4 linked regions of the Homo sapiens genome follow. The protein of the gene in region 3 interacts with the protein of the main gene of each other region in a pairwise test. Each region holds a gene or a part of one and is shown on either strand. Other genes may lie near its edges. The genes, in order: TVP23B, MTFR1, SYT16 and HIGD1C.

The links.
Region 1: the proteins of SYT16 (region 3) and TVP23B interact in binary tests that used the Homo sapiens proteins (3 or more experiments, as listed by UniProt).
Region 2: the proteins of SYT16 (region 3) and MTFR1 interact in binary tests that used the Homo sapiens proteins (3 or more experiments, as listed by UniProt).
Region 4: the proteins of SYT16 (region 3) and HIGD1C interact in binary tests that used the Homo sapiens proteins (3 or more experiments, as listed by UniProt).

The regions. Positions count from the first base shown.
Region 1 is NC_000017.11:18,776,348-18,784,213, forward strand, and holds the start of TVP23B (Golgi apparatus membrane protein TVP23 homolog B), read left to right. Parts: upstream 1-4,835; 5' UTR 4,836-4,946; coding exon 4,947-4,958; intron 4,959-4,966; exon of another isoform or gene 4,967-6,202; intron 6,203-7,866. Other genes in the region: FBXW10 (F-box/WD repeat-containing protein 10), read left to right, coding at 2,128-2,951.
Region 2 is NC_000008.11:65,689,734-65,696,733, reverse strand, and holds part of MTFR1 (mitochondrial fission regulator 1 isoform 1 precursor), read right to left. Parts: intron 3,091-7,000; coding exon 2,975-3,090; intron 1-2,974. UniProt on the Homo sapiens protein: May play a role in mitochondrial aerobic respiration. May also regulate mitochondrial organization and fission.
Region 3 is NC_000014.9:62,109,657-62,113,051, reverse strand, and holds the end of SYT16 (synaptotagmin-16), read right to left. Parts: 3' UTR 502-3,395; downstream 1-501. UniProt on the Homo sapiens protein: May be involved in the trafficking and exocytosis of secretory vesicles in non-neuronal tissues. Is Ca(2+)-independent.
Region 4 is NC_000012.12:50,948,039-50,955,553, forward strand, and holds the start of HIGD1C (HIG1 domain family member 1C), read left to right. Parts: upstream 1-4,505; 5' UTR 4,506-4,661; coding exon of another isoform or gene 4,662-4,677; exon of another isoform or gene 4,678-5,166; coding exon of another isoform or gene 5,167-5,221; exon of another isoform or gene 5,222-5,770; intron 5,771-5,952; coding exon of another isoform or gene 5,953-5,960; coding exon 5,961-6,054; intron 6,055-7,515.

The sequences.
Region 1 (7,866 bases), on a different chromosome or scaffold from region 3:
ATGACTCATGACTGGGATGTCCCTTTGTTATTTTTTAAGGACATTGGTAAAAATTTAAAATGTCTTTCAAATATTTTTGGCTAGTATAGTAGTGTTTCTTTGGAACAAACTCTGTGCAGAGACTGGTTTGAAGTTGACGGGAAAACAATTATTTTATGAGGGCTGCGCTAACAATGGGCATCCTTGTATATACCTATGTCAGTGTACCTGTACAGGTATACCTGAAGGGTAAAGTCCTACGAGTGAAATTGCTAAGCCAAAGGATAAGTGCATTCAAAAACTAGAAAGATATTGCCAAGGTTGTCCTGAAAAATACTGTATCAATTTACACTCCTACTTGCAATATATGAGAGACCCCACTGCATTTGTGCCAACTCTGGGTGTTAGCTGGCATTTTGTAGTTGCTTGTATAAGTAAAAATGGGGTCCGCATTTTCTTCTAGGTTGACCATTAACAAACTAAATGTCCATCAATGGGCAATGGCTAAGTAATAAAAAAATCTATTGTATGGAATATTATATACAGCTAAAAATTGTATGATGAGGATCTGTATATACTAACTTGGAAAGAGATCCACAATACATTATCATTTGAAAAAAGACAAATTAATAAACAATGAGCTCATCACAATTCCTTTTTTTATAAAAGGAGAAAAATTCTCTTTTTGAGTTTGCAAGGAGAATAGGGAAGATTTTGACATCTTGATTTCACTCAGTTTTTTTTTTTTTTTTTGAGATGGAGTCTCACTCTGTTGCCCAGGCTGGAGTGCAGTGGCGTGATCTCGGCTCACCGCAACCTCTGCCTCCTGAGTTCAAGCGATTCTCCTGCCTCAGCCTCCTCAGTAGCTAGGATTACAGGCGCCTGCCACCACGCCCGGCTAATTTTTTTGTATTTTTAGTACAGACGGGTTTTCTCCATGTTGGTCAGGCTGGTCTCGAACTCCCGACCTCAGGTGATCTACCCACCTAGGCCTCCCAAAGTGCTGGGATTACAGGCATGAGCCACCGCACCCAGCCTGAAGACAGGTTTTATTTTGGGCAACATTCAAGATTACTTGGAGTCAAATTTGATTAATAAGGTAAAGATCAAATTTTGCAACATAATTACTGTTGAAAAATAGTTATGCTACTATAAATTTATAAGATCTGCTTTGTGTGAATCATAAATGAGATGTGAAGGTCATTCCCAACTTCACATTTTCTTTTTTTTTTTTTGAGACTGAGTCTTGCTCTGTCGCCCAGGCTGGAGTGCAGTGGCGCGATCTTGGCTTACTGCAAGCTCTGCCTCCTGGGTTCATGCCATTCTCCTGCCTCAGCCTCCCGAGTAGCTGGGACTACAGGCGCCCGCCGCCATGCCGGGCTAATTTTTTGTATTTTTAGTAGAGACGGGGTTTCACCGTGTTAGCCAGGATGGTCTGGATCTCCTGACCTCGTGATCCACCCTCCTGGGTCTCCCAAAGTGTGGGGATTACAGGCGTGAGCCACCGCGCCCGGCCTCAACTTCACATTTTCAAAAATATGTGTAGCATTGAAATCACATCTGTTGCATTCAAAATATGCTCACTTAGAGGCTAATATACTCTTTACTCAATACTAGCATTTTATTAAAAACTTGTTTTATTGGCCGGCTGCGGTGGCTCATGCCTGTAATCCCAGCACTTTGGGAGGCCGAGGCGGGTGGATCACGAGGTCAGGAGATCGAGGCCATCCTGGCTAACACGGTGAAACCCTGTCTCTACTAAAAAAAATACAAAAAATTAGCCAGGCATGGTGGCGGACGCCTGTAGTCTCAGCTACTTGGGAGGCTGAGGCAGGAGAACGGCGTGAACCCGGAAGGCAGAGCTTGCAGTGAGCAGAGATCATGCCACTGCACTCCAGCCTGGGTGACAGAGCGAGACTCCGTCTCAAAAACAAAAACAAACAAACAAAAAAATTTGTTTTATTAAATTGTTTCTAGTATCAGCATTTCTAATACCACTCAGGGTGCCTGCCTGTATGATGGCATACCTGTTGGGCAACAAAGACCTCAATGTGCTTCGAAGTTTGAATGCCCAAGTACTTAATGCATACGTACTTAATATTTTTCATAGAACGCCGATTTTTTAAAATTTTCTTTTTTTTGAAAAAGCAGATGATGTGGAGAAAGCACAAAAACAAGGACAATTGGAAACTCCTGGAAAACTGCCCAGTCACCCAAAGAAAAAGTCTTGGAAAATCCCTATGTCACCTGACCAATTCCTCCTGACTGTTAGCGCCCTGCAGCACGCCCATAATTCCGGGGAATTTGCCTATCCCTGTAGGCCCCAAACAGAAATTACTGATGTCTGGGGACCTTCAATTTCATACCCAAGGAAGGTCTTGAATTTCAAAGGAAAATCAATCCAACGTGCAGTTGATCGGTTGAGATTGAGCAATCCTCCTATAGATGTGAAACGAACCAGTATTCCCCTTGAAATCCAGAAACTGCAGCCCAACTTGAAGATCTCTTTGCACAGTCCTAGAGTCCAGTCCACCATACCCCAGCCCATGATTATCCGCTCCAGGTTCTCTGGCAGCTTAAAGGGTGGAGACCAAGTGACCAGTTCAATTGAAAGGGCTGTGTGCAGTACGGGTCCCCTGACCAGTATGCAGGTCATTAAACCAAACCGCATGCTAGCTCCACAAGTGGGCACAGCCACCCTGTCTCTTAAGAAAGAACGGCCTCGCATCTATACAGCCCTTGATCCTTTTAGAGTGAACACTGAGTTCGTGCTGTTGACCGTGAAGGAGGAGAAGGAGCACCAGGAAGCCAAGATGAAGGAATATCAGGCCAGGGAGTCCACTGGAGTGGTTGATCCAGGAAAAGTCAGCAAAGCTGCATGGATCAGGAAGATCAAAGGCCTGCCTATTGATAATTTCACGAAGCAAGGGAAAACAGCGGCCCCTGAACTTGGACAAAATGTATTTATCTAAACCAGCCTTGGGAAATTACAATGTTTTACAATAAACAGAAAGCCAAGCGGATGTTGCTATTTGGCCTTTTTTTTTTTTTTTTTGACTGTTTCTTCCTGGTAATTAATGTGGGAACTCCCAGTTATCTTCCTCTGAGCCAAATATTTGATATCATCAAAATAAGAAAACAGAAGGAGGTTGGGCGAGATTAGCATCTGTAGTCCCACTGAAAACAATTTAGTGAGCATTAGGAAAGCCCAGTTTCGTTGATGGGGGATGGGGAGATGATCACTGGAAATTAGATACCATTCATCACTACCAATTTAGTGCTATTAGTTCTTCTGGCAAATGAAGTTATGGGATTATATCAGGGTCATGCATTGGTGTTTTCTGGTATTTTTGCACAGAAGCCTGATAAAACCCATTAAGAATTTAAAAGGGGAAGCCCTCAGTGGGGTGGACCTGTTGCATTTGACAACATTGAGCTTTTCCTTCTCAGGGCTAACTCCTAAGGAAGAGAATTAGCATATTTATCCTCTGTACAAAGAGGGCCAGTAACATCAAGTGCATTGAGGTTTCTGCTTAAACCTTTGGACTATGGTGCAGGGACCAGGTAATTTAGAAGAGTGCAGCCCACTACAAGAGCTATGGCCCATTAGAAAGTTCAAGCCTTGACCAGGTGCGGTGGCTCACGCCTGTAGTCCCAGCACTTTGGGAGACTGAGGCGGGTGGCTCACCTGAGATCAGGAGTTTGATACCAGCCTGACCATCGTGGTGAAACCTCGTTTCTACTAAAAATACAAAATTAGCTTTAAAAATTAGCTATTAAAAATTAAAAGACGATAATGAATTCAAACACAATGTCTTAAAAAACCAAAAACTACGAAAAACAACACAAAACTCCACAGCACTGAGTGGACCACTGAAAACCTGCCATGGGCAGGCTGGACGTACAGGCCCCAAATTTGTTAGCTTTTCATCTCCAAGGGCACGAATGCAATTGTGCTGCCGAAATGTCTTGCCTTTAGAAACGCGTGTGTGTGTTTTCCCCCTTTCATTATTAGAATATCAGGTTTTAAATGGCACTGGCAATCAGCCACGTAAAATTTGTGATTTTAATAGAATCCCTTCAATTAAGGACACGTGCAAATACCACTATGCCAACAGCAGTCTGACTCGGCCAGACAGATAGGATATTGTCATCATCACCGCTTCAAAGATGACTTAACGCCCCTTAATTTCACATCCTTTGTTCAGGCAAGATCACAGCATGAGCGGCTGGACTTAAAACTGTAGTAAGTATAACGTCTCCCATTTACTAGATACTTACACTGTAAGGAAACCATTATCACCCCCACTTTACAACTGATGAAAGAAGTACATAAAGGTTGGTGATATGATTGGCAATAGAGTTCCCAGGCGCCTAAGCTCCAGGGCGCAAGGTCTCAACTCCTGGCGTCTAAGTTTATACCTCCCATAATAATACCGTCCATTAGTTACTCTAGAGTCCTCCTGCCTTGTTTTTCTTAACGTTTTACTTCTCTGCAAGAACATATTTTAAAAAGTTGCTTCTACAATTTAAAGTACAAAAGTAATACTGTACAGGAGTAAGTCTTTGTAAAATATTTAAAGAAAATTATATTATACAATAAAACCCCGCCCCCCTGCATTCGGGGCAGCGACACTGGGGGAACGACTTTAGAATTTGCATTGGGTGGACAGCAAATACTTCCGTAAAACAGACCATGAAGCTTTCCACTTAGAGCCCACTGTGGCCCCAATACCTTTCCCTTTCGCTCCTGCTCCAGGCTCCGCCTCCGCCGTGTCCGGGCCGCTCGCCCCGCCCCCGCTCGCCCCGCCCCTGGATTTGCTCCCTCAAAGCGGAAGTGAGGCCGGACTGAGGCTCTTACAGTGGTCCCTGCTGGCCCTTGGTGACGGGTCGCCTCAGTTCCGACCCGGACCCGTACGCTGCTGCGCTGACGTGGCTCCCGGAAGTAGGGCTGGCGTAGGGCCGCCATGTTGCAGCAGGTGAGGGGCTGAGGGCTCGCTGGGAGGGTGGCGGCTCCTGGGACTGGCTCTGCAGGTTCCGTGGGACTGGAGCCCGCGTCCCCCGCGCCCGCTACTCGAACTCGAGGAGGAGCGGGGCGGCCGGGAGTGGAGGGCTGTGGGTAGTTGTCTGAGGAGGGCTGCTGGGGGTTCTGAGGCCGCTGGGGGCGGCGTGACCCGTGCGGCGCAGAGCAAGTACTTCTTGCGGCTGTGGGGACGCCCATTGTTAACCAGCGCGAGTGGGGGTCTCTCTTTCCTCAACCCTTATTGCCGGGGTGGAGTTGAGGAGGAGCGGCCTGCGGGCCTCTTAGCTTCCTGACACCCAGGGGTGCGATGCTATTTTGTAGGAATCGGCGACACCGCCAGAGCCTCGCTTTCAAATTGCTGTTTCCAAACTAATGTTGTTGGTGATTCTCTCCTTTGTGCTCTTAGAGTTAATTGTAGTCCACATGTTGGCAACCAGAGACTCGTAAGATTAATAATATTTTTAGAAAAAACTACTGTTTATGGTCACTTAGATTGTCTTAAGTGTTTTTTTCTTTCGGTTCACACAAAATTTGTTGAGGGATTACTATGACTCAGACACGGTTGTAGGCCCAGGGATAGGGTTGTGACCAGTACAGACAGGTTTCTTGCCCCGTATTTTTGGGTTAGGGAAGTGGGTTCTAGGAGATGGGGGTTGGGTGGGGAGACACGATAAATTGTATAACCAAAGATATTTTCAGATAATTGCAAAGGCAGGGTGATGAAATAACAAGTGTCTGAGGATAGGACAACTAAGATTTATGGTCAGGAAAGACTGCTTATGAGGAGATGCCTTGAGTGGAGAAAATCTAATAATGGTTAAATTCAGCTGTATTACAGGAAAGGTGTCCCGATCCAGACCCGAAAAGAGGGTCCTTGGCCGGGCGTGGTGACTCAGGCCTGTAATCCCAGCACTTTGGGAGGACGAGGTGGGTGGATCATGAGGTCAAGAGATCGAGACCATCCTGGCCAACTTGGTGAAACCCTGTCTCTACTAAAAATACAAAAATTAGTTGGGCGTGATGGTGCACGCCTGTAGTCCCAGCTACTCGGGAGGCTGAGGCAGGAGAATCGCTTGAACTGGGGAGGCTGAGGTTGCAGTGAGCCGCGGGCCACTGCACTCCATCCAGCCTGGCTACAGAGGGAGACTCCGTCTCAAACAAAACAAAAAAAGTCTTGGATCAGGCAAGAAGGAATTCAGGGTGAGTCCACAGTGCAAAGTGAAAGCAAGTTTATTAAGAAAGTAAAGGAGTGGCTACTCCATAGAGCAACCTGGAGGGCTGCTGGTGGCCCATTTTTATGGGTATTTCTTAGTGGTATGGTTAACAAGGGGTGGATTATTCATTCCTCCCCTTTTAGATCATAGAGAGTAACTTCCTGATGTTGCCATGGCATTTGTAAACTGGCATGGCGCTGATGGGAGTCTAGTAGTGAGGACGACCAGTGGTCACTCTCGTGGCCATCTTGGTCTTGGTGGGTTTTGGCTGGCTCCTTTATTGCAACCTGTTTTTTCAGCAAGGTCTTTATGACCTGTATTTTGTGCCGACCTCACATCTCATCCTGTGATTTAGAATGCCCTGTCTGGGAATGCAGCCCAGTAGGTTTCAGCCTCATTTTACCCAGCTCCTATTGAAGATGGAGTTGTTCAGGTTCACATGCTTCTGACATTTGAACCTGCGCCCAGGCCGGATGAGGCTGGAGAAACACAACAATGTTGACTGTTCCCACTATTTATTTATTTATTGATTGATTGATTGATTCATTCATTCATTTATGAGACGGAGTTTCACTCTTGTTGCCCAGGCTGGAGTACAATGGTGTGATCTCGGCTCACTGCAACCTCTGCCTCCCGGCTTCAAGCGATTCTTCTGCCTCACCCTCCAGAGTAGCTGGGATTACAGGCGCCTGCCACCACGCCCGGCTAATTTTTGTATTTTTAGTAGAGATGGGGTTTCACCATATTAACCAGGCTGGTCTTGAGCTCCTGACCTCAGGTGATCCACCCGCCTCAGCCTTCCAAAGTGCTAGGATTACAGGCGTGAGCCGCCAGGCCCGGCCGACGGTTCCCACTTGATAAATTTGTGACGTGAACCTCAGTCGAGCCCTTAGTGCTGCCAGGCGGTCATTCTACATTTCCATAGCCCCTTCACCCTCTCGCCTTAGGCAACTATTAAAACTCAAATCTTCAACGTTTCTTCTCTTATCCTCTCTCAGCTGGTAACGTTGCTTCTTGTTTCACTGAAAATGGAAGCCGTCGGAAGACAATTTTCACACTAGCTGCCTAGTTGCATGTTTACTCAGGGTCTCATATTCTTTTATGATAATTGGACTGTTAGTGCTCCATTCTTAGGTCTTCCTGTCTACTGTGTCCTGGTTTCCATCTCCTCTTGCCTACTGGAAGGCATTGTTCTAGTAATTCTCTTTCTTGTATCATCAGTTTTTTAATCCTTTTAAACGTTTGCTCACATCAACATATAAACGTGCTTTAATTTCTCTTACCTTAAAAAATGAAAACTTGGCCGGGCGCGGTGGCTCACGCCTGTAATCCCAGCACTTTGGGAGGCCGAAGCGGGTGGATCACGAGGTCAGGAGATCGAGACCATCCTGGCTAACACGGTGAAACCCCGTCTGTACTAAAAAACAACAAATTAGCCGGGGGTGGTGGCGGGCACCTGTAGTCCCAGCTACTCGGGAAGCTGAGGCAGGAGAATGGCATAAACCTGGGAGGCGGAGCTTGCAGTGAGCCGAGATCGCGCCACTGCACTCCAGCCTGGGCGACAGAGCCAGACTCCGTCTCAAAACAAACAAACAAACAAACAAAACAAACTTGACACCACATGCTCTTTCACTGGTCACTCCATTCTTT
Region 2 (7,000 bases), on a different chromosome or scaffold from region 3:
AGCCAAGACTGCATCCCCGCACTCCAGCCTGGGTGACAGAGTGAGACTCTGTCTCAAAAAAATAAAAAAAAAAGTTACATATTACATGATTCAATGTATGTAACATTCTTTAAATGATAAAATAGTTAAAATGAACAGATTAGTAGTTGCTAGCCATTAAGAAGGAGTTGAGGTTGGGGATGGAAGAGAAGTATGTGTGGCTATAACAGGGCAACTGGAGGATCTCTGTAGCATGGAAATGTCCTGCATCTTGACTTATCAACATCAATACCCTGCTGTGATATTGTACTATAGTTTTGCAGGATGTTACCATTGAAGGAGACTGAGTGAAAAGCATGGGGAATTTCTCTGTATTGTTTCTTATAAATATGCATGTGAAGAATCTACAATTATCTCAAAATAAAAAGTTTAAATAAAATAAACATCTTAAAAAAGAAAGGCTCTTTACCTGCTAATCCTGCAATCCCTGTGTTTATCTACTGCTATGTCCTTATTTCTATTTGTCATTCAAATCAAATTCCTTGTTTGCTCTTATTTTATTCTTATTTTATCCAGCTAATACTACTCAAATGAAATTACTCTTGCTGAAGTCAATGATAATCTTCCAACTGAAAAACAAAATTGAAACTTGCTAGTTTTTCTATTTACCCAGCCTCTAAGTATTTGACACTGATCACTACTCCTCTTCAATAAAAACTCTACCTCCTCTGCTTCCATAACAATACCCTCTACCAGGTCTTCTCCTGCCGCTTAGCTCTTTGGGTGATGGGTTGGGGTTGGGGAGGGTGATGGGGGAGGAGGCTTTTTCTTTCCTTTAACTTCAAAATGCTGGCTTCACTCAGGGTACAAATGCTCTTCACGTTCTATACATGCTTCTTGGGCACTCTCATATTCAGCCGTTCTATCTAAATGTTATAGAGTATAGGCCTTCCTTACCAATATCCATTCACATAAACTGTTTCTAGATCAAGGTGAATATCTCACAGAAAACTCAAACATAATATATTCCAGACTAGACTACCCTCTCTTATTACCCCCAGCCAAAACAATCTGTTTTCCTATATTCCTATACATTATAGCTAGGTGCGGTGGCTCACGCCTATAATCCCAGCACTCTGAGAAGTCAAGGCAGGTGGATCACCTGGGGTCAGGAGTTCAAGACCAGCCTGGCCAACGTGGTGAAACCCCGTCTCTACTAAAAATACAAAAATCAGCTGGGCATCATGGCAGCCACCTGGAATCCCAGCTACTCGGAAGGCTGAGGCAGGAGAATTGATAGAACCCGGGAGGTGGGGGTTGCAGTGAGCCCAGATCGCACCACTGCACTCCAGCCTCACTCGGGCAACCAAGTGAGGCTCCATCTCAAAAACAAAACAAAAAAAAAAATTGTTTCACCATCCTTATAATTATCCTACATGGAAACCTGAGAATTTAGGATAACTAGACTCTGACTACGTAGGCTCTTCCTTCGTTAATCTCCATATCTAATAAGTTTCTATGTCATTTTAATTCTTATGAATCTCACTTGGCTTTGAACCTCTTCTGCCAGTTTCTTAATTCAGTTAAATTCTGATCATCTCCTAGTTGGTCTATTTCTTGGTCTGGCTCTTTTCTATTCTTCATACTGTTTACATGTTGATTTTACTAGTGCTCAAATTTCTTCCATGGTTCCACACTGCTTTCAGGTTCTATATTGCTTTCCACAAACGTGAACTTTTCTATGTTTCTTAGAGTCACGTGTAAGACCTTCAAACCTCTACCTACTTCTCGTCCTCATCTCCCACAGCTTATCCTTCTTTTCTGCTCTCTAGTCTCATTGAGCCATCTGGCAGTTCCCAAACATGCCACAATGTCTCCTGGTTTTACCTTTAAACAAGTTCTTTACTCTTCCAGGAATACCAGCCTTCCATTTACTTGGCTCCCACTCAGCCCTCATGATGGAGCTCTAGCATTTCCTCCTGAGAAGTCTTGCTGAACATCTCTCATCCTGCAGTGACCATCTGTAATTACTTTGTAGACTTTACAGTATCAACTGATTTCCTTCTTAATCTCCTTTTGACTCAAAATTTTTAGGAAACATTCTCCAATTACACAAATTCTCTACTATGATCCAGATTGATCCCTTTGCCCCAATGAGACCATTATAATTACTGTACTTATCTAAAAATTAATGATCATTGTTTCTGGTCTCTTACATTAGAATGTAAACTGCTGAAGGACAAAGAATTCTGTCAATGAGGACTTAGGACATAATTATATGTCTCTAAAAACTTTATAAATACTAGTCAAGTCTTGAAAACGAACAGACTAGCCTAGGCAACATGGTGAAAACTCATCTCTACAAAAAAAGTAAAAAATAGGCTGGGCGTGGTGGCTCACGTCTGTAATCCCAGCACTTTAGGAGGGCAAGGCGGGTGGATCATCTGAGGTCAGGAGATCAAGACCAGCCTGGCTAACATGGCGAAACCCCATCTCTACTAAAAATACAAAAATTAGCTGGGTGTGGTGGTGCGTGCCTGTAGCCCCAGCTACTCAGGAAGCTGAGGCAGGAGAATCGCTTGAACCTGTGAGGTGGAGGTTGCAATGAGCCGAGATCACGCCACTGCACTGGAGCGTGGGTGACAGAACAAGACTCTATCTAAAAAAAAAAAAAAAAAAAAAGAATTAGCCAGGGTTGGTGGTGCATGCCTGTGATCCCAGCTACTTGGGAGGCTGAGGTGGGAGAATCACATGAGCCTGGGAGGTCAAGGCTGCAGTGAAGCAAGATCACACCACTGCACTCCAGCCTGAAAAACAGAACAAGACCCAATCTCAGAAAAAAAGGAAAATAAACAGAAAAGAAGACTGTTCAAGAAAAAGAAGAGGGTGCATTACTAGAGATAAAATTAGGCTATTAAAAATAAGTACTGCAAATAATATCATTCTTTAAAAAAATAGATATTGCATCTCAGTTCTGATAGCCTTCCAAACTAACCTTAGTCTTGCTGAACACTCTCCTTCTTCTTTGGCTACCCATCCAACATCAGCAAAAGACGCCACTGCATCCTCTCCTGGGTGGCTGGGACTCCATTCTGTTGCATGGCTGTTAATCTGTAAGTTATAAATAGGGAAAGTTCTTCACCAAAGATGGCACCAAAATGTTAAATTTTTTTTACTCACCTAAAGGAAAATCGTCAGCTCTGGTGTTAAAAACACATGAGTGGTTTCTAACTCTTCCACTGAAGGTCTCCATGATTAATAGTCATAATCATATTGTTGCCTAATAGTATATGACAATCTCAGAACTATAACTTTATTCAGTTTTCATTTTATAAGTTGATTTTTTTTTTTTTGAGACAAAGTCTAGCTCTGTCGCCCAGGCTGGAGTGCAGTGGCTCTATCTTTGGCTCACTGCAACCTCCGCCTCCCGGGTTCAAGCGATTCTTCTGCCTCAGCCTCCTGAGTAGCTGGGACTACAGGCACACGCCACCATGCCCAGCTAATTTTTGTGTTTTTAGTAGAGATGAGGTTTCACCATGTTGACCAGGCGGGTCTCGAACGCCTGACCTTGTGATCGGCCTGCCTCAGCCTCCCAAAGTGCTGGGATTACAGACGTGAGCCACTGTGCCCAGCCTATAAGTTGATTTTTTAAAAAACTATCCTAGAAAATTAAGAAAAATTTTTGAATCTAAGCATGAGAAACCACTTTTTTCTAAAGAGATTTTAAAAGGTATGTGTAGGCGGGGGGTATAAGAACAAGCAAACCGGGAAGTGGAGGTTGCGGTGAGCCGAGATCGTGCCACTATACTCCAGCCTGGGTGACAGAGCAAGACTCTGTCTCGGGGGTAAAAAAAAAAAAAAAGAACAAGCAAAAGACCAACTTGAGCTAAATCCAGGAATATTTTTAAATGGCTATTATATAGCTGTTTTGTTCAATGTTTTTATATATGTATATATTATAATGTTGAAAATGTTTTTTAAAACTCCTTAAATCCCCTAAATTTTAAGTAAAAGCATTAAAGAACAAAAGAACAAACAGCAGAACAGAATTCTCTACCTAAACTTAACATGGATGCAAACAGAATATTTTGAAATAAATACAAAAAAAAAAAGACAGCCAGGTGCAGTGGTTCCTGCCTACAGTCCCAGTACTTTGGGAGGCCAAGGCAGGCGGATCACTTGAGGTCAGGAGTTCGAAACCAGCTTGGCCAACATGGTGAAACCCCATCTCTACTGAAAATACAAAAAAATTAGCCAGGCGTGGTAGCACACACCTGTAATCCTAGCTACTCAGGAGGCTGAGGTGGGAGGATTACTTGAACCCGGGAGGCGGCAGTTGCAGTGAGCCAAGATTGCACCACTGCACTCCAGCCTGGGTGACAGGGTGAGACAGTCTCAAAAAGAAAAAGAAAAGACAAGCAGGATATCTTGAAATTTATCTTGAAAAACAAAAAAGATAACTGAGTTAAATTTAGATTTTGTTATACATATAATAATGCCTGAGTCAAAAAGTCAACGAATAATAATTTTTAAATAAAGTTATCAGATTAATACTTACTAAAAGTATGAGTGAGGTTTAAATAAAAAAGAAAAATAATCAATCCACACTTTTTAATTAAGGAAAAAATGAAAAGGCCAAAGAGATTCAGTCATTAATATGTTTATCAAAAAGGTTACCCTTGGGACTCATGCATTGTTCAAACCTCCTCAATGCCATCATTGCCAAGTCAAACTTTTGGAAGATATACTTAAATAATGCCTCTTCCTTAAACACAAAATATATCATGTGACACATAATACTAACATTGTTGAAAGTTTAAAATATCTTTAATGTAATATTATGAATAAAACTTTAAACATATCAGTTGTTGGTATGTGTACTCTCCTGGTATAATTATCTAATCAACTTAATAAAGTAGCATTAAAAATAACATTTTAAGGGCTGGGCGTGGTGGCAGGCGCCTGTAACCCGAGCCACTAGGGTGGCTGAGGCATGAGAATCACTTCAACATGGGAGGTAGAGGTTGCAGTGAGCTGAGATTGCGCTACTGCAATCCAGCCTGGGCGACAGAGCAAGACTCGGTCACAAAAAAAAACCAAAATCCAAAAACATGTTAACAATAAAGTACTAAGAACATCGAGTATCTAAAGCACCTTAAATTCAGCCAGGTGCGGTGGCTCACGCCTGTAATCCTGGCACTTTGGGAGGACAAGATGGCGGATGGCTTGAGGCCCCAGGAGCTTGAGACGAGCCTGGGCAACATGGCAAAACACCTGTCTCTACTAAAAATACAAAATAATTAGCTAGGCATGGTGGCATGCACCTGTAGTCACAGCTACTTGGGAGGCTGAGGTGGGAGAATCATTTGAACCCAGGAGGCAGAGGCTGCAGTGAGGCATGATCGCACCACCACACTCCAGCCCGGGCAACAGAGTGAGACTCTGTCTCAAAAAATAGAAATTTTAAAATCTTGCCTTCCACAAAAACAAAAACAAATAAACCTAATAATGAAATTATGATAAAAAGGCTTTCAAAATACCAATTTGCATGTAGTGGAAGTAATTTGTAGTCAGATGAGGAAAAAAGCATGAACTTCAGTAAGTAAATTCTCAAGGTATAAGATCAAAGGGAAGATTTTTGTACTTCCCTTTGTAGTTCAGAAACTTATCCAAACAGATATTCAGCAAATGGGTATCTCATACAACTTAAATAACACAACTGGGTATCATATTTGATCTCAAGAGTTGAGAAATCAGGTAATGTTCTGTTCCTACCCATTACTGAAAACAGAATGGTATCCTGATATTCCCATAACACTGTAATAAGGAGATTCTAAATGGGTTATGTGGCTATCCTTCAGCAGGAATGTTCCCCAAGCCCTGTGAGGCTCCTAGCAGAGATGGTATTTAATGGGCTGTTTTGTATAAGTGTTAGACAAATCCTAAGACTAAAATCTGAATGGTGCCTTCCTAAGGTGCTATTTCATGAGATGATCAATCTGATCATGACCCTTTGTTTAGAAATAAAAATTCTGTTCCAATATAATGACTAGTTGGTAGAAAGTTAGGCATATTTAAGACAAAGACTTCTTACTTTCCTACAGAAGTTACAAAAATAGCTGTTTTCTTCTAAAACATCTATAAAAGGAAACAAAGTGTGGGGAGGAGGGAAGAAAAAAAGAAAAACAAAAAAACAAAGTACTACTTTTCTTTTTTGTTGTTGTTGAGACCAGGTCTCACTCTGTCACTCAGGTTGGAGTGCAGTGGTACCATCTCGGCTCACTGCAACCTCCCGCCTCCCAAGTTCAAGCAATTCACCTGCGTAAGCCTCCAGAATTACTGGCACACACCACGACACCTGGCTCATTTTTTGTATTTTTGGTAGAGATGGGGGGTATCGCCATGTTGCCCAGGCTGGTCTCAAATTCCTGGGCTCGGGGGTTCCACCTGCCTCAGCCTCCCAAAGTGCTGGGATTATAGGTATGCACCACCACGCCCAGCCAGTACTACTTTTCTAAGAATACATATTCAAAGAAATATAAGTTAACTCATTTTCAGGATATCATAAATAGTAATTAAGGATTAAACACATTTCTCAATTTTACATCTATAAAATTAAATAATGCCTCCATAAAATTAATATGTTAAACATAAAATGCCAGCTTTTGCACAAACTTTAAAAAAACAAAACAACAAGATACAACAAACTATTCCACGGACTTAATTTGGATCTTACTTAAGCCTTAATTAGGCAAATGATACCAAGTCCATAATATGTGCTCAATAAGATGAAAATGTTAATGATGCTCTCAAGAACCAATTCCAAAACTGATAAGATGTATGTCATTTGTACTTGAAATCCTGTCCCACAAAACAAAATAGTTTTGGCATTTAAGTCAAACTCATTCAAAAGACAAAATAAAACTAGAAGAAAATCTTCTTTATAAAAGGCCGTTTCAGGTGTTGGTGAGGGAAGCATTCATTGAGTGACACAGGCATGGGATGCAAAGGACAATTTCCA
Region 3 (3,395 bases):
ATAACTCAGCTCCCTCTACTTCTAGCTTGTTGCATCTGAGCCTTGTTAACTTTTGAGAACTGGGTATTCATAGAGGGGAAAGTGTTCTGGACAAGAGCTTCTCTAATGAGGAATTACATACACTTTTGTACATGAACACCTACACTTTGCAGTTTGCCTTCTCAGAATCCCCTTTAGATGCAATTTAATTAATTCAGGTGATCCTTACATTTATATAGCTCCTTACCTGATGTTCTTCAAGTCAGCATTTGAACTGGTATATGTTGATTTGTATATGTGTTCACCATAAAAGCCTACAGCACCCTGAAACCAAATAAACTGTATGGATCATACATGTAATGCTTATAGTTCTAAAATATATGTCTGCAGTTGGTATGGTTTTGAAGTTAATGGTTTTTGTATATACTAAAATAAGCAGTATCATTCAGGCCCATAAAATTTGCATGTTGATGCTGCAAAACTGTATCTTTTTTTAACATAAAAAATTTTCACACATGTACATATAAGCCATCTGCTAAAACTTTATTGATAAAACCAGTAGCAGCAGTTTTACAAAATTGGAATGATTTTCAGTTTTCATGAACTATCATGAATTCAGTTGCAGCAGACATTTTATACAAACTGGGGCTAATGCTTCTTCTATGTTTCTGTTTTAAACAAAAAGCAATTAGAATTTATCCTCATGCATTTAAATATCTAATACAGAAATAGTGTTTAGACTGCATAAAATATGCTTTCCAACATCACTGTGAGACTGAACATCTGCCTTAAGTATTATTTGCACAAGAAAAACAGTATAATTCTTCTAATCATGAATTTATTCCTTGTCACAGGTAAAGTTTTACATTTTCTAACATTTTCAGAGGGCATTTCTAACAAAAAGTATTGACATTCAATATTTCACTGATTGGTCTTGTTTAAACACAATACATAATAGTAAGATAGTAATACATTAAAACCATCATTATGAAATCTTAAAGACTACAAAAGGTAGAAAGGTATTCCAGTTTTTAACAATTAAAAAATTTCCACACCTTTTCCTATACACAAATTATCCACTGATAGAAGTAAATTTAGAAATAGGATGGGTCATTACATTCTACAGCTGTTTGTTCTGGTAACAGCTAGTGATACATTCATGCTTCTTTAATAAGAGACACCATGAATCAATAAGTCATACTATGAGAAACACAAGGACACCCACATGGAATGTTCTGAAGATTGTCAGAAGTTTCTAAAGTAAGGGTTCAATTCTTTTGAGGAGAAATTTTTTCTCTCTCTCTCTTGAACCTCTGGACCACATACGAATTCTCTACTGGAAAACTAGAGGAGGAACTATAATAGCATCCAGGTCTGAAAATGCCTATGAAACACTGGGAGAGGATTGGGGTGGCTTCCACCTTACAACTAACAAAACTGGCCTTGAACAATCAATTTGCCAAGAAATTCTTCTAGTGACTTAGAAATCTAGAGGAAGACCAGATTTTATACTAAACCATGTTATACTTAACTATCCACAAAAGTGAAATTTATAAAATTACTGACTGCCTTTGACAACCACCAAAACTCAGCACAGTCTAGCACATATAAATAATGTATTAAAGTAAGCATAGAATAGAAAAAGTACATGTTTACAATGTTAATACATCTGCAGCATCCAGCTGTGAGTAGAATAGTAATATAAAGCACATTCCCTGCTAAGAACAGTGTACTCCATGTAGGGTAAAATCTCCTGAAAATCTCCTAAAATAGTTACATATGTTCAAAATGAATGAATCATTCACATTTACATTTTTTTCATGAAAGTTCTTCAAGGACACCCATCAAAAGTTGAGATATAAAGGAAAACCAATAAAATATTTTAGAACAACAGAGCTGTACACAGTATGCATATGGTGAAACATAAATGTGTGAATGTGAACAACTGTTTCAGATGCCATATGAAGACCAAAAATATTGAGAAAGTCAGATTTATCTTGCACTGTGAACACAAATAAAATATTGCTATGAAATCTTGGATGTACCTTAAAAATGATTTTTTAAATCTTTACTTTTTCTGTGGGATAGTAAAAGGGCATTTATGAAGAAAATGATTACATGAGTGAGGAAAGTCACTTGGGAGGGGAGAGATGGACAAGTTTGATTCTTCAAAAGAAAAATAATAAAGGAGATTGAAGGACCTTTTTTGGCAGGGGAAGAATTTTTCTAAGGACTGTATTCAAATCCACTTTGTAGGGGAGGAAAAGCTATTCCATTTAATACTTTGCCTGTACTCAAAGTTAGGTTGTTCTAAAGAAAGGTCTGCATTCAACTCAAAGGTTGGCGAACCTGCTGAAAACATGGATTTGCAGTTTGTTACATGATCAGTGTTTGAACAAAAAAAAATTAGAACCTAATATTTTATTTCTAGCTCCTCAGAGACAGAACAGCTAAAGACCAACTATAACTTGTATTCAGACAGATTACTGACATTCTATGAATATGGCCCACTGATTGGCAGAGCTCTAAAAGTGTCAATTACTTTGATATATTGACATAAAGAGTTGATACGACCTTAATATAAAAATCACAAACTATCCTGTAGTCTTCAAAAACATTGCAAGTCTTCAAAAATTCTGCAAAACGTCTTTCCATCTATCACCTTGTCATATGTATGGCCCTGTTATATAGTGGGGTCTCAAAGTGTTCATTATATTAATGAAGGAATGAATGAATCCTGTTCCTACAACCACCTGGTAAAAATAGGTAAAATGAGTATTACTATTCCCATCTGATAGATGCAACAATGAAGGCTTGAAAAAATTGTGACTTGATATTCATTTTAGAGCTCATTAGTGGAAGATTTGATATCAGAACACAGGCCTCATCAACTTTAATCCAATATTCTTTATACAACTATACCTTCATCTCTGCAATAATGCCAGGTTCTGCAAGTTGCTGTAGCTACAAAGCAAAGGGCAGTCAGAAGACATATAAATAATCTCAAAATGTTTCTCAGATACAAATCATTGGCCAGGCCTCCCCCTTCACCCAGAGTGACTATCAGTGTTTTCTTTCCAACACCCATCTACTTGTTCATGCAACATATACATTAGCATGGGTTATCTTTTCATTCAGAATTCAGAGCTGCTGTGTGAGCCAGATGCTTACATACCATTTTTAATTGATTTGTACAATTAACTATGACGGGGCACAATCACAAAGCTTCCTTTCTCTTGGCAGGAGTGGTAAATGTAAAGTCATATAAACTAGCGACAGAAGGTGATTTTCTATCATGAATCAGTAATAACATAATTAACACTTTTTATCGACAGGTATTTAACTCATTGCTCAACAAAAGACACTACAGAGTCACTAAATTTGGGATCACGTCTTCATAACCTTCAGAACTTTCT
Region 4 (7,515 bases), on a different chromosome or scaffold from region 3:
TGCCCTTACACTCTAGGTTTCAAAAAGAAAATTAGGCTGCATTTTATAGAATAGCTCACATTTGTCTCTGACACATCTCCCCATGCTAAAATTATAATTTCTATTTCTGGAACCTTCCCTACATGATCACTTGACTCAGAATCCTTTGATGACTCTAAGCATATCTTCTAATCCTCCCCCAATCTCTTCACAACTTTAAAATTATGAAACCTAACAAATAAGTTATTGAATATGCAAAATGACCATTATACACATGAAAATATGTTCAATTTCACTCATAATACAAGAAATGCTCATCAAAACTGCTGTAAGGTACCATTTCTTACACATCAGATTGGTGAAAACTTCTAAAGCCTGACAACACATTCTGTTGGGCAGGCTGTGGAGAAAGAGACACTTCTGTAGATTGCTGGTGGGAATGCCAATATATTAAAACCTTGTAGGGAAATCTGGCAATATCTAAAAAACTAAACTTTATTTTCCTTTGACCCAGCAATTCCACTTCTGGGAATTTACCCTGAAAATATACCTTCAATAATATAAAAACACCGCCGGGTGCAGTGACTCATGCCTGTAATCCCAGCACTTTGGGAGGCCGAGGAGGGTGGATCATGAGGTCAAGAGATTGAGACCATCCTGACCAACGTGGTGAAACCCTGTCTCTACTAAAAATACAAAAATTATCTGGGCATGGTGGCATGTGCCTGTAGTTCCTTCCAGCTACTTGGGAGGCTGAGGCAGGAGAATCGCTGGAACCCAGGAGATGGAGGTTGCAGTGAGCTGAGATTGCACCACTGCACTCCAGCCTGGCGACAGAGCGAGGAGGAGGGGGGAGGGGAGGGGGAGGGGAGGGGGAGGGGGAGGGGGGAGGGGGGGAGGGGGGGAGGGGGAGGGGAGGAGGAGGAGGAGGAGGAGACAACACATATGCACGAGGTTATTCCTTGCAGCATTGTTTGCTGTAATGTCTCCAGCCTACATGCTCACTCACATCTAGGAGAGCATTTAAACTATGCTATACCCACACAGTGGAGGACTATGCAGCTATAAAACAGAATGAAGAAAAGATCCCTAGAATGTGAAGTCCTCCACTCTCTGCTTGTAGATTTCGGATGCTTTCTTCAGGATCCTTTCCATTTGACACTTCTCTTGCATCTTTCTAAGGCCATCTGGGCTGGGGTCCACTTGTCCAGGCTGTGTCGCTTCTCCCCCTTGTTCTTTTTGCTCATTGCCATGGCTTTCAGGAAATTTGCCTTGCCTTTGTCCTTCTTTTTCTTCTTCTGCTTGATCACACTGAGCTCTGCAATGCCTTTCAGCTAAAGGGGTCCCTTCTGGACCTGCTCAGAGGCTGTCACGGCACCCGCCGCAGTTTGGTAGGCAGACTGCCCTGGTTATTCTAATGATCAAATTGTCCCAGATTTCGCTATTGGAAACCCCTTTAAGCTGGCTCCTGTTGTCTATTGACATGTCTCATTATTCTTTGAATGCTTCTTTTTTTTTTTTTTTTTTTTTTTTTGAGATGGAGTCTCACTCTGTCGTCCAGGCTGGAATGCAGTGGAGTGACCTCAGCTCACTGCAACCTTCGTCTCCCAGGTTCAAGCTATTCTCCTGCCTCAGCCTCCTCAGTAGCTGCGATTACAGGCATGTGCCACCTCACCTGGCTAATCTTTGTATTTTTAGTAGAGACAGGGTTTCACCATGTTGATCAGGCTGGTCTCAAACTCCTGGCCTCAAGTGATTGGCCTGCCTTAGCCTCCCAAAGTGCTGGGATTAAGGCGTGAGCAGTGAGACAACATAGCCTAGGTAGCAGAACCACCACCCAAGGCAGGAATGGAACATACACCTTGTCCCTTTCTGAGCTCATTCCCCCAAAACCCCACTTCCAGACACTTCTAATGTGTATTGCCAGGGCAGGTATTTATAATCAATCACGGTTTCTTTGTAATGGAACCCAGACACAGTCTGCCTCATAACCCTCATCTCTGGGCTCCAAGCAGCCTCTTGTATTTACTCAGAGTTAGCCCATCACCTGGAGCCTATTTGGCATTCCAGCCTTAAGGACACCTCACGGGTGACAGGACCAAGGCACAGCCCCAGTGTAAACAGACATGGGTGCAGTCAAATGGGAGGGTCCAGGTACCAGTGCTGATGGGCCAGCGTCTTCAAGGGCCTACTTAACCTAGATGAGGATCAAACTACATGTGCTGCTGGGAGAAACAGTCTCTGCTGATACAGATATTGAATGAATAACAAAGGCAGAAGAGAAAAATCAAGCATGGAGTTTGAGGTTGGCCCATGTAAACTACAGAATAAAGCAAAAACCAGTTATTTTAAAATAAAATAAAATAAAAATAATCATAGTGATGGATTATAAGCCACTGAATAAAATAGGAATGCAAGAGTCCAAACTGATAAAAGATTAAATAGAGAAGAAAGAAAAGCTATTCCTCATTAGAATGCCTACTAATAAATGGTTGTTTGTTTTTGAGATGGAATTTCCCTCTGTCACCCAGACTGAGTGCAGTGGCGCAATCTTGGCTCGTTGCAACCTCCACCTCCTGAGTTCAAGCAATTCTCCTGCCTCAGCCTCCCCAAGTAGCTGGGATTACAGGCACGCACCATCATGCCCAGCTAATTTTTTTTTTTTTTTTTTTTTTTTGAGATGGAGTCTCATTCTGTCACCCAGGCTGGAGTGCAGTGGTGCCATCTCAGCTCAGTGCAACCTCCGCCTCCCAGATTCATGCCATTCTCCTGCCTCAGCCTCCCGAGTAGCTGGGACTACAGGCGCCTGCCACCACGCCCAGCTAATTTTTTTTGTATTTTTAGTAGAGATGAGGTTTCACCATGTTAGCCCGGCTGGTCTTGAACTCTTGACTTCAGGTGATCCACCTGCCTTGCTTGGCTTCCCAAAGTGCTGGGATTACAGGCATGAGCCACCGCGCCCGGCCATAAGTTTTTTTTTAAGGTGATATATTTAGAAAAACCACCATTTAGCAAACTAAAATTAATGGATTCAAGCAAGGATCATCAACAGACACTGAAATTAATGGGTAAAAGTCTGACAAATAACAGGATATTTGTATAATATTAAAGTACCTGTTCAGAAACTACTTATTAATTAAAAGGGAGAAAAAAAAGTAACCACAGTGGAGAACCAGGCAGACACCACGTTAATCCACATGATGAAAGCAGTGGTGTGCTAGAGCCCATTCCTACCAACCCAGGAAAGGGACATTTCCCAACTTTGTGTTCCGTGATGACAGACTCTATTTAGAAATTGGGCATGGTGGGAATATTTACAACACAGAATGGGGCAATGGCAAATGCCACAGAACAGGGCAATATCTCCCCCTCCAGAGCCAGTTGAGTTGTTAAACATTTGTCAGCACCACACTGGATCAAAGTTAACTACCACCAGGCAATTCAACTTTCTGTGTCTCCTGATATTTCACACTAAGAAGAGCACAACATCATTTTTGTCATATTCTGCCCAAAATGTATGACCTCAATCTAGTGAGAAAACATGAGTTGGGGGAGGGGACGGGAACACAGGATTAGATTGAGAGGCATCCTACAAAATAACTGGCAAAACATCAAGGTCGGCTGGGCGCGGTGGCTCACACCTGTAATTTCAGCACTTTTGGGAGGCCAAGGTGGGTGGATCACCTGAGATCAGGGGTTTGAGACCAGCCCGACCAACATTGTGAAACAAAATCTCTACTAAAAATACAAAAAAATTAGCCGGGCGTGGTGTGGCGCTTCTATAGTCCTAGCTACTCGGGAGGCTGAGGCAGGAGAATTGCTTGAACCAAGGAGACAGAGGTTGCAGTGAGCCAAGATTGCGCCATCACACTCCAGCCAGGGTGACAAGAGCGAAACTCCATCTCAAAAAAAAAAAAAAAGAAAAAAAAATCAAGGTCAAGACAGACAAAGATGATTAGGAAGGTGTTTCAGACTAAAGGAGACTAAAGAAACAGGACAACTAAATGCAATATATGATCCTAATTGGATGCTAGACCAGAAATTTTTTTTTTTTTTTTTTTTTGCTATTAAGGACATAATTGGGACAACTGGTGAATATGAATAAAATCTTTAGATTGAAAAACAGAATTATATCAATGTTAAGTTTCTGATTTTGAACACTGTACTATGGTTATATAATAAAAGAATGCCCCAAATGCATACAAAAGTATATGGAAGAAAAGGCATAAGTCTGCTACTGTCAGGTGGTTCGCCAAAAATATTTTTTAAAGAAAGAAACATGTTAATAAAGGAAAATGCGGGTACCAGACACACAGTTCTTTGTACTATTCTGGGGACTTTTCTATAAGTCTGAAATTATTTAAACATTAAGTTACAAGGGAAAAACCATGAACGCTACCTGATCCTCTGCCCTCATCTCTAGGTCCACATGGCTGCAGTCGGAGGGAGGCGGTGAGCAAGGTGTTCTCCAAGGTCTCAAGGGGCCCCAAGGCTACAAGGTCAGAACAGAAGCAAAGGCCACGTCCACCACCGACCCACCTCAAGAGCCACAGCCTCTCGGGTCTCCACAGCCCCACTCAGGTCTCACACACAGGCGCAGGGACTAGCCACAGGTGCAGCAACGTCACGTCTTTCCCCTGGGCGCGTGTGCAGCTCGAGGCTTTGCAGGAGGCGCACCTGCGATGGCCTTACCGCCAGGTGAGCCCGGCGGGCTCTCATCGCCTCAGCCGGAGATTCCAACTGCAGGGAGCGCACCTCCTCTGGCTAGGGCGTGTTTCCGAAGGATGGCAAGAATCCTGGCCTCTGATGGCTATCTTCTCCCCTTCCCCTCCAAGCCCAGTGTTGTGACCCTGTGCCCTCTTTCCCCTCAATTTTGGGCCCAGGAGTCAGGTACTAAGACTCAACAGTCACAGAGGGAAGTCAGGAGCTCCCTTGTGAAGGCAGACTTAAGCAAATGCATCTTCTTCCAAAGCCTTCATGTTTTTCTTAATGTTGGCTTCAAAAGCCTAGTTTGTGGCCCAGGCTGCTACTGGTGAGTTTCTAGCAGGGTGCTGGAAATCTTGGCCAATACCAGCCGACCACTCCCCCAGTCCCCTGGGGCGTGTTTCTGGGCTTTCCCATTATCAATTAGTTGGAAATTGCACATCGTGTCCTGGCCTTACAACAAACACCTGTTCTGATCTACAGCCTCTTGCTGAAGGAACAACAGGAGACAGACAGCAGGTGGCGGGGTGTGCCACAGGTATTGTGCTTCTTACGCTTAAGTTTTCTGATGAAGTCTCATTCATAGGATGAAGCCGCTGTATTTGAATTCTGGGGTGAACACAATAAGCTGCACAGGGAACAGACTCAGGCGCTGCTAAATCTGTTGTGATTATAGTTGCTTTTGCAAGTTTCTTCATTCATCCTATGTAGACAAGCCAGGCTAGACAAGGAATCCATTGTCTAGCATAGCAACTGGCACACAGTAGGTGCTTGGTAAATATCTGAATGACTTTATAATGCCCTGCACATTCTGCAGAGTTGAAGTGATCATTCTCCCAATACCTGTAAATCTGGAAGTATTTTTGCCTATGTTGGCACTGCCATACTTCTTTAAAATGATACTTTAAAAAGAAAATGTGTTCTTCAAATACAGTGCTTGTGGAAGAAGTCCTGAGGTTCCCAGTGATCTCAAATGCTGAGCAGTGGAAAGGAGACTGAATAACAGCATTATGATCTGTGTTTTTACTCTGTATTCATGAAATCTGATTATCATTTCCTCTATGTATTTTTTTCTTATCCCCTTCCCCTGCAAAATGAAAAAATTCGGTAGTGAAAAGTGTGAAGGAAAGACAATTGTTTCAGTTGAGCAGATAGGCTTATCAAACAAATGAAAACAAAAAAACACATAATCAAGAGTATGATGGGAGAGGAAAAACAAATTATTTTTAATGATTCACGGCAACCACATTTATATCCTATTGTTACTAGAGAAAAAAATGTCTTCAGATAACCAGTGGTCAGCAGATGAGGATGAAGGCCAATTATCCCGACTAATCAGGAAATCTAGAGACTCCCCCTTTGTCCCTATAGGTAAGTACAAGCCTTGACTGGATGCAGAAAACTGTAATAACACAATGATGCCTTACCCAGTGCCTTTGCGGATTGAAATGTTTCTTATAATTGAATTTTTTCAGATAATTGAAGCTAACCTCCTCTAAGCATGTGTTGAACTTTCAGAATAGTTCCTAATACATGGTAAGCCCCCAGTAAATGTTAGCTGTTATTTGAGGCATCAAATTTTATTCTATTTTATCCATTTCATTAGAAGTCTACCTAAAATTATTAGTTCCTAGCCAGTCAAATGGAATAGATTGAATGAATATTAACATTTCAGTCATAACTCAGGACCATCAACAGCAGCATCAGTTTATTATATTTAAAGCCTATTAGGGACTATTGAGATGCATATGTCTCTTTGTCTTGTAAGTAATCTAAACTTTAAGTTCTTACATCTTCTGTTTATAGATTTTTCTGTTTCTATCTTACTATTGGGCACATTAAAAACTTCTGCTTCTAGGCCGGGCACGGTGGCTCATGCCTGTAATCCCAGCGCTTTGGGAGGCCGAGGTGGGAGGATTGCTTGAGCTCAGGAGGTGCAGGTTGCGGTGAGCCAAGATCACACCACTGCACTTCAGCCTGGGTGACATAGTGAGACCCTGTCTCAAAAACAAACAAACAAATAAACAAAAAACCAAAAACTTCTGCATCTAATGTTTTTAATGCTCTGTAGCACCAGAAGCTAGATAACCAAGCTTGAAAGAACTGTGGGTCAATTCAGAGGAAAGCTCTGAGTAAAAGCCTGGATCTATCTGAACACTTGTGAGCATGAACTTTGGAGTGGTCATTTTGGCTGCTCAGTGGCCCTCTGTGCTGGCTTCTTGGTGTGCTCCAGGTGTTGAGTTTGATGGCAAAATAAATTCTGGACTAAAGAAGTGATACTATAATTAGGCCGGGCACAGTGGCTCACTCCTGTAATCCCAGCACTTTGAGAGGCCGAGGCAGGTGGATCACTTGAGGTCAGGAATTCAAGACCAGCCTGGCCAATAGGGTGAAACCCCATCTCTACTAAAAATACAAAAAGTTGGCTGGGCATTGTGGCACACACCTGTAATCCCAGCTACTCAGGAGGCTGAGGCACCAGAATCACTTGAACCCGGGAGGTAGAGGTTGGGTGCAGAGCGAGACTCCATCTCAAAAAATAAAAAAGAGAGATACTATAATTAGATCACCTAATAATCTGGACCCTTAGCCTCTTTATCCTTTCCCCACACATATTTAGTATGTTTACATTTTCAACAAGTATTATGTGTATGTGGACTTTAAAAAACCCCACAAAACCTAAGCACCAATATTATGTTTTGAAGTCTGAGCTTTCTCTTTCTTCTCCATGGATGTATACTGCAGCCATGCCTGTTTCCTTGTGTTCATTTTGTCTGGAAACTATTAAAATAGTTTACTTAAATCAGACTGACATAAGTTTGCAAAAATATT